2 linked regions of the Homo sapiens genome follow. The protein of the gene in region 2 binds, or shares a complex with, the protein of the main gene of each other region. Each region holds a gene or a part of one and is shown on either strand. Other genes may lie near its edges. A codon is read from its position in the direction of its gene.

Evidence for each region. The genes of interacting proteins can lie anywhere in the genome.
Region 1: the proteins of RBBP4 (region 2) and ZNF512B are in contact, whole or in part, in a crystal structure (PDB 8TX8), measured with the Homo sapiens proteins. Residues at the interface, in NP_005601.1 of Homo sapiens: Ala39, Leu40, Glu41, Trp42, Pro43, Leu45, His71 (codon at 3,284), Thr72 (codon at 3,287), Ser73 (codon at 3,290), Glu126, Asn128, Arg129, Pro145, Glu179, Tyr181, Glu231, Asp248, Glu275, Asn277, Asp318, Glu319, Phe321, Thr338, Lys376, Glu395, Asn397; in NP_065764.1 of Homo sapiens: Lys419, His420, Arg421, Arg422, Lys423, Gln424, Pro427, Lys428, Lys429, Phe430.

What each region holds. Positions count from the first base shown.
Region 1 is NC_000020.11:63,966,927-63,973,963, forward strand, and holds the start of ZNF512B (zinc finger protein 512B), read right to left. Parts: upstream 3,005-7,037; 5' UTR 2,998-3,004; coding exon of another isoform or gene 2,888-2,997; intron 2,732-2,887; exon of another isoform or gene 2,592-2,731; intron 2,444-2,591; exon of another isoform or gene 2,316-2,443; coding exon of another isoform or gene 2,203-2,315; intron 1,027-2,202; coding exon of another isoform or gene 1,025-1,026; coding exon 904-1,024; intron 598-903; coding exon 455-597; intron 79-454; coding exon 1-78. UniProt on the Homo sapiens protein: Involved in transcriptional regulation by repressing gene expression. Associates with the nucleosome remodeling and histone deacetylase (NuRD) complex, which promotes transcriptional repression by histone deacetylation and nucleosome remodeling.
Region 2 is NC_000001.11:32,654,190-32,661,208, forward strand, and holds part of RBBP4 (histone-binding protein RBBP4), read left to right. Parts: intron 1-3,237; coding exon 3,238-3,383; intron 3,384-7,019. UniProt on the Homo sapiens protein: Core histone-binding subunit that may target chromatin assembly factors, chromatin remodeling factors and histone deacetylases to their histone substrates in a manner that is regulated by nucleosomal DNA.

The DNA of each region.
Region 1 (7,037 bases), on a different chromosome or scaffold from region 2:
CAGCCAGCACCCTGAGTTTGGACACTTCACCCTCGAGTGTGCCTTGAACTCATCCTTCCAGTCGTTCATCAGGGAGAGCTAGGCGTGGGGAAAGGTGGTGCTGCTGACCCGCAGCCACCTGGGCCACTGCCAGCCCGAGCCCCAGACTCAGAGCCCCCCCGGGCCTGCAGGGCACACACACCACATGAGCCCCTCAACCTCGGGACTGCAGTGGGAATTCAAGCCACCTGGCAGGGGCCATGCACAAGACCCGTTCTAGGAGCCCACCAACGCGATCCCCCGAATCTCCCGGCACATCAGATACAAAGCCAGGCCACGTGAAGTCTGCCAGGCCAGTGCCCACATCTTGAGGCATAGAGTTGGTACCAGATGTGCAGAGGACAAATCAGGGCAGGGCAGTGGCTGGATAGGGAGACCCCAGCATGAGCCCCACCATGGCCCTGAGGGAGCTCACAGGAATGTCTCGGAGGGCCTGGTTCTCGGCTTTTGGCCGCCCCTTTTTCTTCCCTTCTGTCTTGTCACTGGCTGGACTTCCCGGGTCAAAGCAGAGAGGGGCCTGGCCGGGCACTGTCTGTCCACCACGGACCACCGGCATCCCTGCAGCACACAACACAGCAAGGCTCGGAAGCTGTGTAGCACCGCCTACCACCGGCGGCTGCACAGGCCCACAGTGAGCACCGCTGTCCCAACACGAGGGCACCGGGGGCAGGGGCTGCGGCCAGCTGAGGACAAGAACCCAGGACCCTGGGCTATGTCCAAGGCAACCCCTACCCTGGTAAGGTCCTTGGGAACTCTAGGGGCCTAGCTGGGTACCTGGAGACAGGACGCCCAGGGCAATGGTCCACTCCTACCACTTGCTGCCCAGAACCATCTGGAATTGACTCTGGCCCTGACTCCTCTTACCCATCTTCGGTGGGTCATGCAGCATTGGAAGTCGGACCTCCTTTCGGCTGCCATCCTTCCCGGGACCACTCTTGCTGGACCCCGGGAGCCGACGGCCTCCAACGCAGAAAGGATCCGTCATCTCTGCAGAGCAAGTAGACAATCTGTGAAGCCTGACGGGCCCCACTTGGAACACGTGGTGAGGCTGCCCTGGAGCCCTGCCCTTGGCAGGTCCTCTCTGGTCAGGGAAGAGGGGCCTGCCTTCCTGTGGTTTTGTTCACGTGGGAAAAGCAAGTGATGGGGGCTTCTGACTTAGGGGAGGGGCTGCCAGCCAAGGTCTCCCCAGATAACCCAGGAGTCATCATCAGTTTGATAGGATCTAGTCCTGTCCTGAGACCCTCACCAACTTCCAGACCCCCTTCCCAACACGCAGCTCTACAGTGTACGCAGCTCCACAGTGTGCGTAGCCCCACAGCTGCGAAGATGATGCCGAAGGTGATGCACTCCTACCCAGTGCTGGGAGGGGGTGTGCCCCTGGGAGAGGTGCCTTGCGCAGGAGGAAGGAGGCTGGCAACATTCCTCCAGGGGCCAATTATGTCTCTGATGATGGCTGCTGGCTCACAAGCTGCCCAGGCCCAGCAGTGGGGGCACAGCTTCTCACTGGGGCCCTCATACCTTCCCATGCTGACTTGATGCAATGCCAGCCTACCCAGGCAGGTACCCTTGGAATCTTCTCTCCAGACACAGATGGAAAACAGCCAAGGTGGGCACTGAGGACCCCTGGCCCAATCTGGCACTGCACCAAGCTCCCGTCCCTGTGCCGGCTGAACTATCCTACCTGATGCTCTTCGCAGACTTGTCTCCAGGCTTGGCAGGCTGACCCGCCCCCCACCTCTCTCTGGATCCTCTCAGTCCTCTGCCTACAGACCCACCACTACCACTTCAGCCAAACAAGTCGTGGAAGCACCAGCAGTGAAGGCCCAGGATGCTGGCCAGAGAGAACGCCCTGCTGCCCAAGGCTGGGGCCCCCGAGGGCCTGTGCTGCTGGGAACCCCATCCTGAGAGCTGGGGAGCAGAGGAGACTCTGGGCCCAGCCCTGTGGAAAAGCCACGGAAGGGGGTGGGACAGGAAGCAGGGTGAGGGTTGAGTGGGCAGGTGGCCCCCTCCTGATAGCTTCTAATTAACTTGGATCCGAGGGGATGGGAAGGGGCTGCTGTGTCCAGGAGGGCCAGAGAGCTGAGGTCAGAGGTCAGGACAGTCACTGCCCATTGCCAAGGGGGAGGCCAGTGTCCGGGGACAAAGTTCTCTGGAAGTCCTCACTTTGCAACTTTTGAAAGGAGACAGGGCCGGCATGAGTCATCCCAGCACCTGATGACCCCGGTGGCCTGGGGTGCAGGTGCCTGCTGAGGCCCCACTTCCAATTTTTCTGAAGCCTGGGAGAAGAATTCAGAATAGTGGGGCCTGAGGCCAGGGCCAGCCTGGGAGGCAGAGACGCGACTGGCGCCCCGGATGAGAAGGGGCTTCGGCCCTCCCGAGCCCAGCGGGGACACAGAGCCCTCGCGGGGAGAGGGGGCTCCGCCGCGCTGCGCGCAGGAGACGCCAGCAGCGGGTCCGCCGCGTAGGCCGTTCGGCCCGGGACCCCGGCCCAGGCCTGGCGCGCGGGTGAGCGCGGCCAGGGACGCGCACCTGGGGCCAGCCTCGCCACCCACCTGTCACCTGGGGCCGGGAGCGGGCGCGGGGCGCGGGCCTCGGCCTGGCCGGGCAGGGCCGATCGCGGGCGCGGGGTGGGGGGGCGAAGGCAGTGAACCAAAATGGCGACTTTTTCTGGAGAAGGAGGAGGCAGGAAGACGGCGCCGGCGCGGGGCGCGGGGGCTCGGGCGCGGCGGGGGGCGGGGGGGCTCCGGGCCCGGCCCCCTCCTTGGCCTGCGCGCAGGGTCGAGATCCGGGGCGCGGTGGGCGCCGGGGCTGCGGCCAGAATGGGTCCGGGGCGCGGCCGGGCGCTTACCTGCGGCGCCCAGCGGGGCTGCGGCCGGGCCGGGCCGGGCCGGGGCGGGGGGCGCGGGGCGCGGGGCGCTGGGTCCGGGCGGCGCAGGCTGCGCGCCGCGCTGCGCACATGCGCGCTCCCGCCCCTCCCACCTTTGACAGTTTTACTGCGGGGGGGAGGGGGCGAACTCTCGCGTTATTCCCGCGGCCGCTCCGCGACGGGGAGGGGGCGGGGAGGGGGCGGGGGCGGGGGCGGGGGCCCGGCGCTGGCCTGTGGTTCCCCCGCTCCGCGGTTCCGCCCCCGTCGGCCGGGCCCGCAGTCCAGAGTAGCCGGTTCTGCCGTCCTGGGGCGGGGGACGTTTTTTGGACAGTGGGGTAAACTGAGGCCCGATAGGGGCGCTAGGCACTGCCCGGAGTCCGGCGCGCACGGATTGAGGCGACCTGATTCCGCCGCATCCTGGCCCGCGCGGCGAGTGTGGTCTCTGGGCTCGGGACCCTGACCTCTGGCCCTGGGGGCCGTGCACCGGCAGCGCAGGATTCAGCCTTCTTCCAACTGGCCCTGAGACCACTTTTGCGACTGACCCCCGGAGGTGCCTGGCGGCTTAAGGCCATGGGGTTTTACTGGGGTCACTGACCATTGGGTCACCCTTTCCCAGCTCTGGGGGCAGTGGTTCTGAACCAGTGCCAGGGCCTTCTCTGCCCCACAGCTTGGGCTTCTGCAGGCAGGGGGCACTGGGGTCCGGTGTGGGCTGAGTGGTCTGGAGGTGGCGGGGCACTGACAGCACAGGACTTGGGAATGAATGAGACAGAGAAAGGTTGGCTCTCCTAAAGAGGACTGGTAGGAGGCACCACACGGGACTGGCACAGGACCCACAAGAATCTCCCCCAGGAGAGCCTGCCTGCCTGCCTGCCTGCCTTCCTTCCTTCCCTCTCTTACTTCCTTCTCTCCTTCCTTCCTTCCTTCTTCCTTCCCTCCCTTCTCTTCCTTCCCTTCCCTCCCTCCCTCCCTTCTTCCTTCCTTTCCTTCCTTCTTCCTTCCTTCCTTTTCTCTTTCCTTCCTTCTCTTCTCTTCCCTCCCTCCCTTCCTCCCTTCCTTCTCTTCCTTCCCTTACCTTCCTCCCTCCCTTCTTCCTTCCTTTCCTTCCTTCTTCCTTCCTTCCCTTCCCTTCCTCCCTTCCTTTTCTCCTTCCTTCCCTTCCTTCTCTTCCCTCCCTCCCTTTCTCCTTCCTTCCTTCCTTTCTCTCTCTTTCTTTTTCTCCCCTCCCCTCCCTTCTCCTCCCCTCCCTTCCCCTCCTCTCCTTTCTCCTTCTCCGTTCTTTTTTTATTCTTGAGATAGGGTCTCGCTCTGTCATTCAGGCTGGAATGCAGTGGTGTGATCTTGGCTCACTGCAGCCTCTACCACCTGGGCTCAAGCAATCCTCCCACCTCGGCCTCCCAAGTAGCTGGAACTACAGGTGTGTGCCACCCCACCTGGCTAAGTTTTAAAGTATTCATAGAGACGAGGTCTTTCTGTGTTGACTAGGCTGGTCTTGAACTCCTGGGCTTAAGCCATCTTCCTGCCTCAGCCTCCCACAGTGTGGGCATTACAGGTGTGACCCACCGCCTCTGGCTAGGAGGGCATTTTTTTTTTTTTTTTTTTTTGAGACAGAGTCTGGCTCTGTAGCCCAGGCTGGAGTGCAGTGGTGCGATCTCGGCTCACTGCAAGCTCCGCCTCCTGGGTTCATGCCATTCTCCTGCCTCAGCCAACCAAGTAGCTGGAACTACAGGCGCCCACCACCACGCCCGGCTAATTTTTTTGTATTTTTAGTAGAGACGGAGTTTCACCCTGTTAGCCAGGATGGTCTCAATCTCCTGACCTCGTGATCCGCCCACCTCGGCCTCCCAAAGTGCTGGGATTACAGGCGTGAGCCACTGCCCCTGGCCTTAGGAGGGCCATTCTTACCTGTTCACAGCACCCATCTCCCAGGGAAGGCCTCAGGCCTCAGGAGGGAAGAGTCAAGGAGACTCTGGGTTTTCATCTTGTGCCCATAGAGCATTTTTTTTTTTTTTTTTTTGAGATGGAGTCTCTCTCTGTTGCCCAGGCTGGACTGCAGTGGCGCCATCTCTGCTCACTGCAACCTCCGCCTCCTGGGTTCAAGCAATTCTGCCTCAGCCCCCTGAGTAGCTGGGATTACAGGCACGTGCCACCATACCCAGCTGATTTTTTGTATTTTTAGTAGAGACGGGGTTTTACCAAGCTGGCCAGGCTGGTCTCGAACTCCTGACCTCGTGATCCACCCACCTCGGCCTCCCAAAGTGCTGGAATTACAGGCATGCGCCACCGCACCCAGCCAGCATTTTTTTTAAAACCATGTGCATATATTACTTTTATAATTAAAACAGACTTTTAAAAGTTTCGTAATGCCCCTTTTTGCATACTACAAATATTCTGGACTCCTTAAAATTGATGTGGGCTGGAAGTTGCTAGTCAGGAAATGGAACTACCAGGTGTGCCTCCTTCGCTGGGGCCCTTCCGGCCCAGTCGGCCCCTTTCCCTGTACCCCGTGGAGCAAGCTCAGAGGCACTGCTAGGGGGTTGGGCAGTAAGATTTTTGCCTTTCCTCAAAGGGGCCTGGGATCTGCTTCACTCAAGGCTGGTGCAGAGCACTCACATGGAGATTGGAGGTTGGCTCTTATAGAAGAGGCAGTCAGTCAATCCTTCCTTCGGGAATCTGAGTCAGAGAGGCCAGTGCACACCAGCCTGTGTGACCCGAGGAGGAAGGGGAGGGCATTCCCTGTGAGGCTAGCGTCATCACGTCCTTCCCTTGTTGACCTTTCCCACCCTGGGGACGGGACCAGCAGGATTTCCTGAGGGGTCAGTGTGTGTCCCCTTAGGTGCAGCCAAGGCCGTCAGCTCTCCCTGTGTAAGTCTGGGTGTCCATACATGCGACCTGTTTGGACATTGCCGTGTCAGGATATGACAGTGTCCCATGCTAGGTGAGACCAATGCCTGTCTGTATTTTAGCATCTGGGCGACTAGACCTCAGGGTACCTGGGGACGATGTGTCTGGATTTCAGTATCCATGTGTCCAGGCTGCGGCATGTCTCAGTGTCAGGGTGCTGGTGAGGGACGGCTGTTTTCTGTGAGCATCTACATGCCAGGGTGTCGTGGAATACAGTGTGTTTGTGTGCACCGGGGATGTGCCGTGTCCCATGTGTTTCTATGTGTTAGGAGGTCGTTGTGTGTCTGCATGCTAGTATTTGTGTATTTGTGTAATGACATCTTTGTATGGGGGCATGCTGTTACATACCTTTGTGTCTGTGTGCCTGGCCAACTACATGCATGTGTTTGTGTGTGTTGGTGTTTGCTGGTGTCAGTGTCATTGAGTCTCTGTGTGTGGTTTATGCTCTTATGTGTCTGATTGCTGTGTGTGTGTGGTGTGTGTGTGTGTGTGTGTGTGTGCTGTGATCTGTGTTTGAGACAGGGTCTTGCTCTGTTGCCCAGGCTGGAGTGCAGTTGTGTGGTTAGAGCTCACTGTGCCTTGAACTCCTGGGCTCAAGGAATCTTCCTGCCTCAGCCTCCCAAGTAGCTGGGACTACGGGTATGCGCCACCATGCCTGGCTAGTTTCAAAAGTTTTTTGTAGAGATGGGGTCTTGCTATGTCACACAGGCTGGTCTTGAACTCCTGGCCTTCAGCGACACTCCTGCCTTGGTCTCCCACAGTGCTGGGATTGCAGGCGTGAGCCACCGTACCAGGCCAGATGTTTGTGTTTTATCCCTGAACGTGTGAATGGGATCTTATTGGGAAAAGGGTATTTGCAGATGTGATGAAAGATCTTGTGATGAGGAGATTATCCTGTATTACCCAGGTGGCCCCAAATCCAAGCATCCTTATAAGAGAGAGACAGAGGGAGATTTGAGAGACAGAAGAGGAGGAGGTGATCTGATTACAGAGGCGGAGACGGGTAATGCCCATGCGCCCGAGTTCCCCCGGCAGCCACTGGAAGCTGGAGAGGTGAGGAGTCGCCCCAGGAGGCCCTGAGGGAGCTGGATTTTGGACTGCGGCCTCCAGAACTCCAGAGAGAATGAATGTCTGCTGTTCTCAGCACCCCTCCGTGGTCCTCTGTCACGGCAGCCGCGGGACCCTCACGCGCTGTCTGGGCCGTCCCTTCCAGCGTGTCGGGCGTTGTGTC
Region 2 (7,019 bases):
TGGTGAAAAGCCCGTCTCTACTAAAATTACAAATATTATCCGGGCATGGTGGTGCGTACCTGTTAGTCCCAGCTCCTCAGTGGGGGCTGAGGCAGGAGGATCACCTGAGCCTTGGGAGGTCAAGGCTGCATTGAGCTGTGATCCTGCTACTGCACTCCAGCCTGAGCTAGGGATTGCCACCCTGTCTCAAAGAAAAAGAACTTGTGGCAGAGTACTTAATGAGAAGTGTACTGGAATGGTGATTCCACATTTACTATAGTCATATGCTAAATTGTGCTTATTGGACTAGTGGATCACAAATATTGGCCATCCCATACCTACTAAACATTCTAGAACCCCTACTTTTCAGAAACTTCCCAAGTAATATAATAGAATGACTAGCTAGGTTTCGAAAGCAAGAATTAAAGACTTAATTCCCCAAGGCTGAAATCTGTACTGTCATCTTAGTAGTTTTCTGCATTAGCAAATCTAGATAAATAATGTGAGAATTGTTTTTTGTTGTTGTTGTTGTTTTGAGACGGAGGACGGAGTTTCACTCTTGTTACTCATACTGGAGTGCAGTGGCATGATCTGAGCTCACTGCAACCTCCGCCTCCTGGGTTCAATCGATTCTCCTGCCCCAGCCTCCCAAGTAGCTGGGATTACAGGCACCCGCCACCACGCCCAGCTAATTTTTTGTATTTTTAGTAGAGATGGGGTTTCACCATGTTGTCCAGGCTGGTCTTGAACTCCTGACCTCAGGTAATCCACCCGCTTCGGCCTCCCAAAGTGCTGGGATTACAGGCGTGAGCTAGTGCACCTGGCTGAAAATTGTTTTTGAGACAGGATCTTGCTTTGTTGCCCAGACTGTGTTGCAGTGGCACGATCAGAGTTCCCTGCAGCCTTGACCTCCTGGGCCAAGGAATCCTCCTGCCTCAGCCTCTGGAATAGTTGGGGCTACAGGCACACGCTACCATACCTGGCTAATTTTTGAAAAATTTTTTTGCTATGTTGTCCAGACTGTTCTTTAACTTCTGGGCTCCAGTGATCCTCCCACTTTGACCTCCCAAAGTGCTGGGATTACAGACATGAGCCACCGTGCCTGGCCCTGTTTTTGTTTTTTAAGATGAGGATTACTTACAAGCAAGCAGCCCTGATGCAGTGTTTACTTTTGTGTGTGTTCTTTTTCTGGTGTTTACCCAGATCCGTTTCCCCCCTTTAAAAAGAAAGAAAAACCACGGTTGTAGTTCTGTAACACTGTCCTCTCCTTCATTCTTTTTCTGGTTCTTGTCTAACCTTCTACATACAGGTAATTCCAATTTTCTGTTCATATCTCTCTTCATTTCTTTTCAGTGTAATGTAGAAGCTCTCAGAGCTTTGCCTGTGACATCTGTGCAGAAGAATTCCTATTGATATCTTTAGACCTCACTTCTCCAGAGCTTTTCCTGATTTTTCTTCTGCCTGCCCGTGTCTTCCCTGGTATATCTTACTGGCTTCCCCAGTTTGACATGTTGTAAATGGAATTATTCCTTACGTGAAGGCCTTACCCCAACTTTCTCTCCTGTTGTTCCTATTTCTTTTCATCATAATTGGCTTTAGTTTGACATTTTCTCTTTCTCCATTTTATAGGCAGTCAATTTATAAACCCCAATGAATTCTGGTTGTGTAGCATCTTTCCCATCTAGGCCAGGGGTTCTCAAAATTTTATATGCATCATAATCAGCTGGAGGTACTGTGAAACAGTTAGTTGTGCCCCACCTTCTAGAGTTTCTGATTCAATGGGTCTGGAGTAGATGTGAGAATTTGCGTTTCTAACAAGTTCCCAGATGATGTGGATGCCCTTGACCCAGTATGGAGTACAGAATGCCTTAAGACGGCATTCAGAACACTAAATAGTCAGTTTTAATCGGCCTTCTCTCCCACTGTGCTTTCCCATATCAGAAGTCAGATTTGGACTTCAGCATACTTGTTACTTAGTAGCTGTGTGATCTTAGGCAAATTGTTTAATTTTCTTTCTTTTATTTATTTTTTTCTTTTTTGAGACAGGAAGTAGTCTTTCTCTGTCACCCAGGCTGGAGTGCAGTAACACGATCTCTGCTCACTGCAGCCTCCGCCTTTCGGGTTCAAGCGATTCTTGTGCCTCAGCCTCCCAAGTAGCTGGGATTAGCCAGCCGCCGGTTTTTTTTGTTTTGTTTGTTTTTTGAGACAGAGTCTTGCTCTTTCGCCCAGGCTGGAGTGCAGTGGCACCGTCTTGGCTCACTGCAACCTCTGCCTCCTGGGTTCAAGCAGTTCTCCTGTCGCAGCCTCCTGAGTAGCTAGGACTACAGGCACCGCCACCACACCCGGCTAATTTTTGTATTTTTAGTAGAGACCGGGTTTCATCATGTTGGTCAGGCTGGTCTCGAATTCCTGACCTCAATTAATCCACCCTCTTCGGCCTCCCAAAGTGCTGGGATTACAGGTGTGAGCCACCATGCCTGGCCCAGCTGCAGGTTTTTTGAGGTCAGGAATCATGTCTTAATTGTCTTTGTACTTCCATCGCGTTTGGAGCGATGTGTCCATTGATAGGCGGTTAGTAAATGTTTGAAAAATTGGTTTATGTTATTTACTCTTCTTTCCCTTTTTTCATTCTTTTCAATTTCTTTGCACCCTTTCCCCTTCTTTCCTTTTTAATGAAAGTTTTAGTAAGCAAAATTATTAGCATACCCAACAATGGTTTGCTTTCCCTCCAACCTGTTGGTAGTGAGTGAGTAGTTAATTCACATTTTATTCCATAAAACGTTTTACTTTTTCTCCAGAGTAATTAAGTAGAAAATATGGCTCTTGGCCAGGCACGGTGGCTCTTGCCTGTAATCTCTGCACGTTGGGAGGCTGAGGTGGGTGGATAATTTGAGGCCAGGCGTTCGAGACCAGCCTGGCCAACATGGTGAAATCCCGTCTCTACTAAAAATACGAAAATCAGCCAGGCATGGTGGCAGGTTCTTGTAGTCCCAGCTACTCGGGAGGCTGAGGCATGAGAATCGCTTGAATCCGAGAGCCAGAGGTTGCAGTGAGCCAAGATCGCACCACTCCATTCTAGCCTGGGCGAAAGAGTGAGACTCTATTTATAAAAAAAGAAAGAAAGAAAAGACCCTTAATGACTTTTTCCCCTCTCTTAAAACCTGGTTGTATTAGTGACTTTGACATACATGTATATTGTTGACTTCGCCGTCTCCTGATGTTACTAATTTGAACAGTGACTATATATTGCCGTTACAGACCAGAAGGGAAAGATTTCAGCATTCATCGACTTGTCCTGGGGACACACACATCGGATGAACAAAACCATCTTGTTATAGCCAGTGTGCAGCTCCCTAATGATGATGCTCAGTTTGATGCGTCACACTACGACAGTGAGAAAGGAGGTAGGAATCTTAAAGGTGAAAGAAGTAAAGATGTGTGGGTCATATCTGTTATGTGCACTTTGATAAAGTAAACTCTGACTTTAGAAACAATATTTAAGGTTGAGGGAAAGCCTGAGTTTGCAATGGTAGGTATTTATATTTATATTAGAGTTTTAGGTATCAGAAGAAATACTTAACACATCCTTGGTTCTGTACCTTCACAATAAACTTTTCTCAGCTGGTGCTGGTGGGGAGGATTTCTGCAATTGAAAGAAGCAAAAATATATATTATTGCTGTACATTCTTGATTTTTTATTTTTTTACTCAGTCTCGCTCTATTGCCTAGGTTGGAGTGTAGTGGCACGATCTTCTCTCACTGCAACCTCCGCCTCCCGGGTTCAAGCGATTCTTCTGCCTCATCCTCCTGAGTAGCTGGGATTACAGGCGCCCGCCACCACGCCTAGTTAATTTTTGTATTTTTAGTGGAGACAGGGTTTCACCAAGTTGGCCAGGCTGGTCTTGAACTCCTGACCTCAGGTGATCCACCCACCTCAGCCTCTCAGAGTGCTGGAATTACAGGCGTGAGCCACTGCACCCATCCATATTGCTATACATTCTTAACACGGGAGATAACTACCCCTAAGGAGGTGAAAATTGGTTTGTGTATGTGAGTAGGTGTAAATAATCTTACTGGTTGATTGTTTAAAGCACAGATATGCACAGAGGACATAGGATATCTATGGTATTAAAATTTCATGGGACTGGTGGGGAGGGAATAGTTCTTAAAAGAGTTCTTAGAGGAGCAATAGTAAAAAAAAAAAAAAGGTTGAGAAACACTAACTTAAATTACCCTTTCTAGGTTTAAAGTGGTAGAAATGACTTAACCATGGCACTCTCTATGTGTATAGAAACTAAGTTCCAATGAGTTGTTTAATTATATCCTGTTTTTAGGCCATAACCTAAGGGTTTAACTGCTCATGAAATGCTTAAACGCTTTCCTTTTTTTTTTTTTGGAGATGGAGTCTCGCTCTGCTGCCCAGGCTGGAGTGCAGTGGCGCGATCTCAGTTCACTGCAACCTCCACCTCCCAGGTTCAAGCGATTCTCCTGCCTCAGCCTCCCAAGCAGCTGGGACTACAGGCATGCACCACCACGCCTGGCTAATTTTTTGTATTTTTAGTAGAGACAGGGTTTCATCATGTTGGTCAGGCTGGTCTCGAACTCCGGACCTCAAATGATCCTCCTGCCTTTTGTTCTTGTTACTGAGGCACAAATACTCTGATTGGTAGTGTGATAAATTGTAAAACTACATATATGTGTGTGTATATATTTATATTGTGTGTGTAAAATTATATGTGTAATTTTACACAATATAAATGTTATATTTATATATAAACATACGTATATATGTATGTATATGTAAAACTACATGCGTGTATATATTGTGTGTAAAATATAGTTATATATAATTTTAGATAATATAAATGTATTATATTTATATATAAATATATAAATTATATATGTAAAACTACATGTGTATATATTTATATTGTGTGTAATATATATAATTTATATATACATATAAATTTTATATATATAAAATATATGTAATTTTACACACACACAATATAAATGTATACACACACATATATGTGGTTTTACATATATATGTAATTTTACACACAATGTAAAAAACGCACCCCTTCTCCCATATAATAAACCTTTCCCTGGCCGGGTGCGGTGAGTCACTCCTGTAATCCCAGCACTTTGGGAGGCTGAGACCAGTGGATCACTTGAGGTCAGGAGTTCAAGACCAGCCTGGCCAACATAGTGAAACCCTGTCTCTACTAAAAATACAAAATTAGCCATGTGCAGTGGCACGCACCTGTAATCCCAGCTACTCAGGAGGCTGAGGCAAGAGCATCACTTGAACCCGGGAGGCAGAGATTGCAGTGAGCCGAGATCTCACCATTGCACTCCAGCCTGGGCAAAAAAAAAAAGGGAAACTCCGTCTCAAAAACAAAACAAAAGAAAAACCTTTCCCCTGGATATCACTTAAATGGATGTATTGTGATGTATTGTTTTCTGAAGGATTTATCCTGTGTATTGGATCACTCATTCAACAAATATGTTGAGTAATTTTGTATGCCAGGTATAGAATATGCAATATAGGTTCATAATTTGCTTTTATGGCCTAATATATCTGGGGCATGTATCTTTGTTAGTAGATGGAGACCTGCCTCCTTTTGATGGCTGTATAGTAGACCATAATTAACTATTCCTTACTGATAGACATTTAGATGGTTTCTAATTTTTTGACTTCAAAAGCATAGTTTTGCTATAGAAATACTTTCTAAGTAGAATGTTGTATCAAAGGGCAGGACCGTTTTTTAATATAATTGATACTGCTAAGTTGCACTCCAGAAAAAGATTTGAAGTCCCACAACAGCGTATGTATTTATGTCTGTTTCTCCATGCCTTTGCCAACACTGGACTCAGTAGAGTTCATTCTCAAGTTTACATTGCTTTTTTTATTTGTGATGTTGAGCTTACATCTCCTGTTTATTTATGTTTTTTGCCCGTATTTCCTTTTGAGTTACCTCTTCATATAAGGTAAATTATACCTTCTCCACCCAATAAATAGGTGCAGATCATTTTCTTGTTTAACTTAAAATCTTAAGTCCTGTTATTGGTTAGAAGCTGTAAGTTGCTTTTTTAATGGAGCCTTGCTCTGTCACCCAGACTGGAGTGCACTGGCATGATCTTAGCTGACTGCAGCCTCCTTATGGGCTCAAACGATCCTCCCACCTATGCCTCCCAAGTAGCTCTGGCTACAGACATACACCACCATACCTGGATTTTTATTTTATTTATTTATTTTTTTTGAGTCGGAGTCTGGCTCTGTCGCCCAGGCTGTAGTGCAGTGGCGCAATCTCTGCTCACTGCAACCTCCGTCTCCCAGATTCAAGCTATTCTCCTGATTCAGCCTCCCAAGTAGCTGGGATTACAGGCGCCCACCACCACACCCAGATAACTTAATTTTTTTTTTTTTTAAGAGATGGCATGTCACTATGTTGCTCAGGCTGATCTGGAACTCTGGCCTCAATCTTCCCACCTCAGACCTCCCATTCAATGATTTCATAAAGTATGTGTTCATCTATTGTTGTCTTCTGGGACTTTTATGTTTGGGCCATTAAAACTTTTGTCATTCTGGTATTTGGTATGGAATCAGAATCCAGCCTTTTTTTCCTAAATGATTGAGTTTTTGTTGTTATTTTGAGGCGGAGTCTTGCTTTGTCACCCAGGCTGGAGTGCAGTCACACAATCCCCGCTTACTGCAACCTCTGCCTCCTGGGCTCAAGCAGTCCTCCTGCCTCAGCGTCCTGAGTAGCTGGGATTGCAGGCATGCGCCACCATGCCCAGCTGATTTCCATTGTATTTTTTGTAGAGAGTAGGTCTCACCACGTTGCCCAGGCTGGTCTGAAAACTCCTGGGCTCTTGCAATTCACCCACTTTGGCTTCCCAAAGTTCTGGGCTTATAGGCATGAGCCACTATACTCAGCCAAAAAAATTTTTTTATTCAGTCAACCATTGATGGACACTTGGGTTGATTTCCGTATCTTTGGTATTGTGAATAATGCTACAGTGAACATACAAGT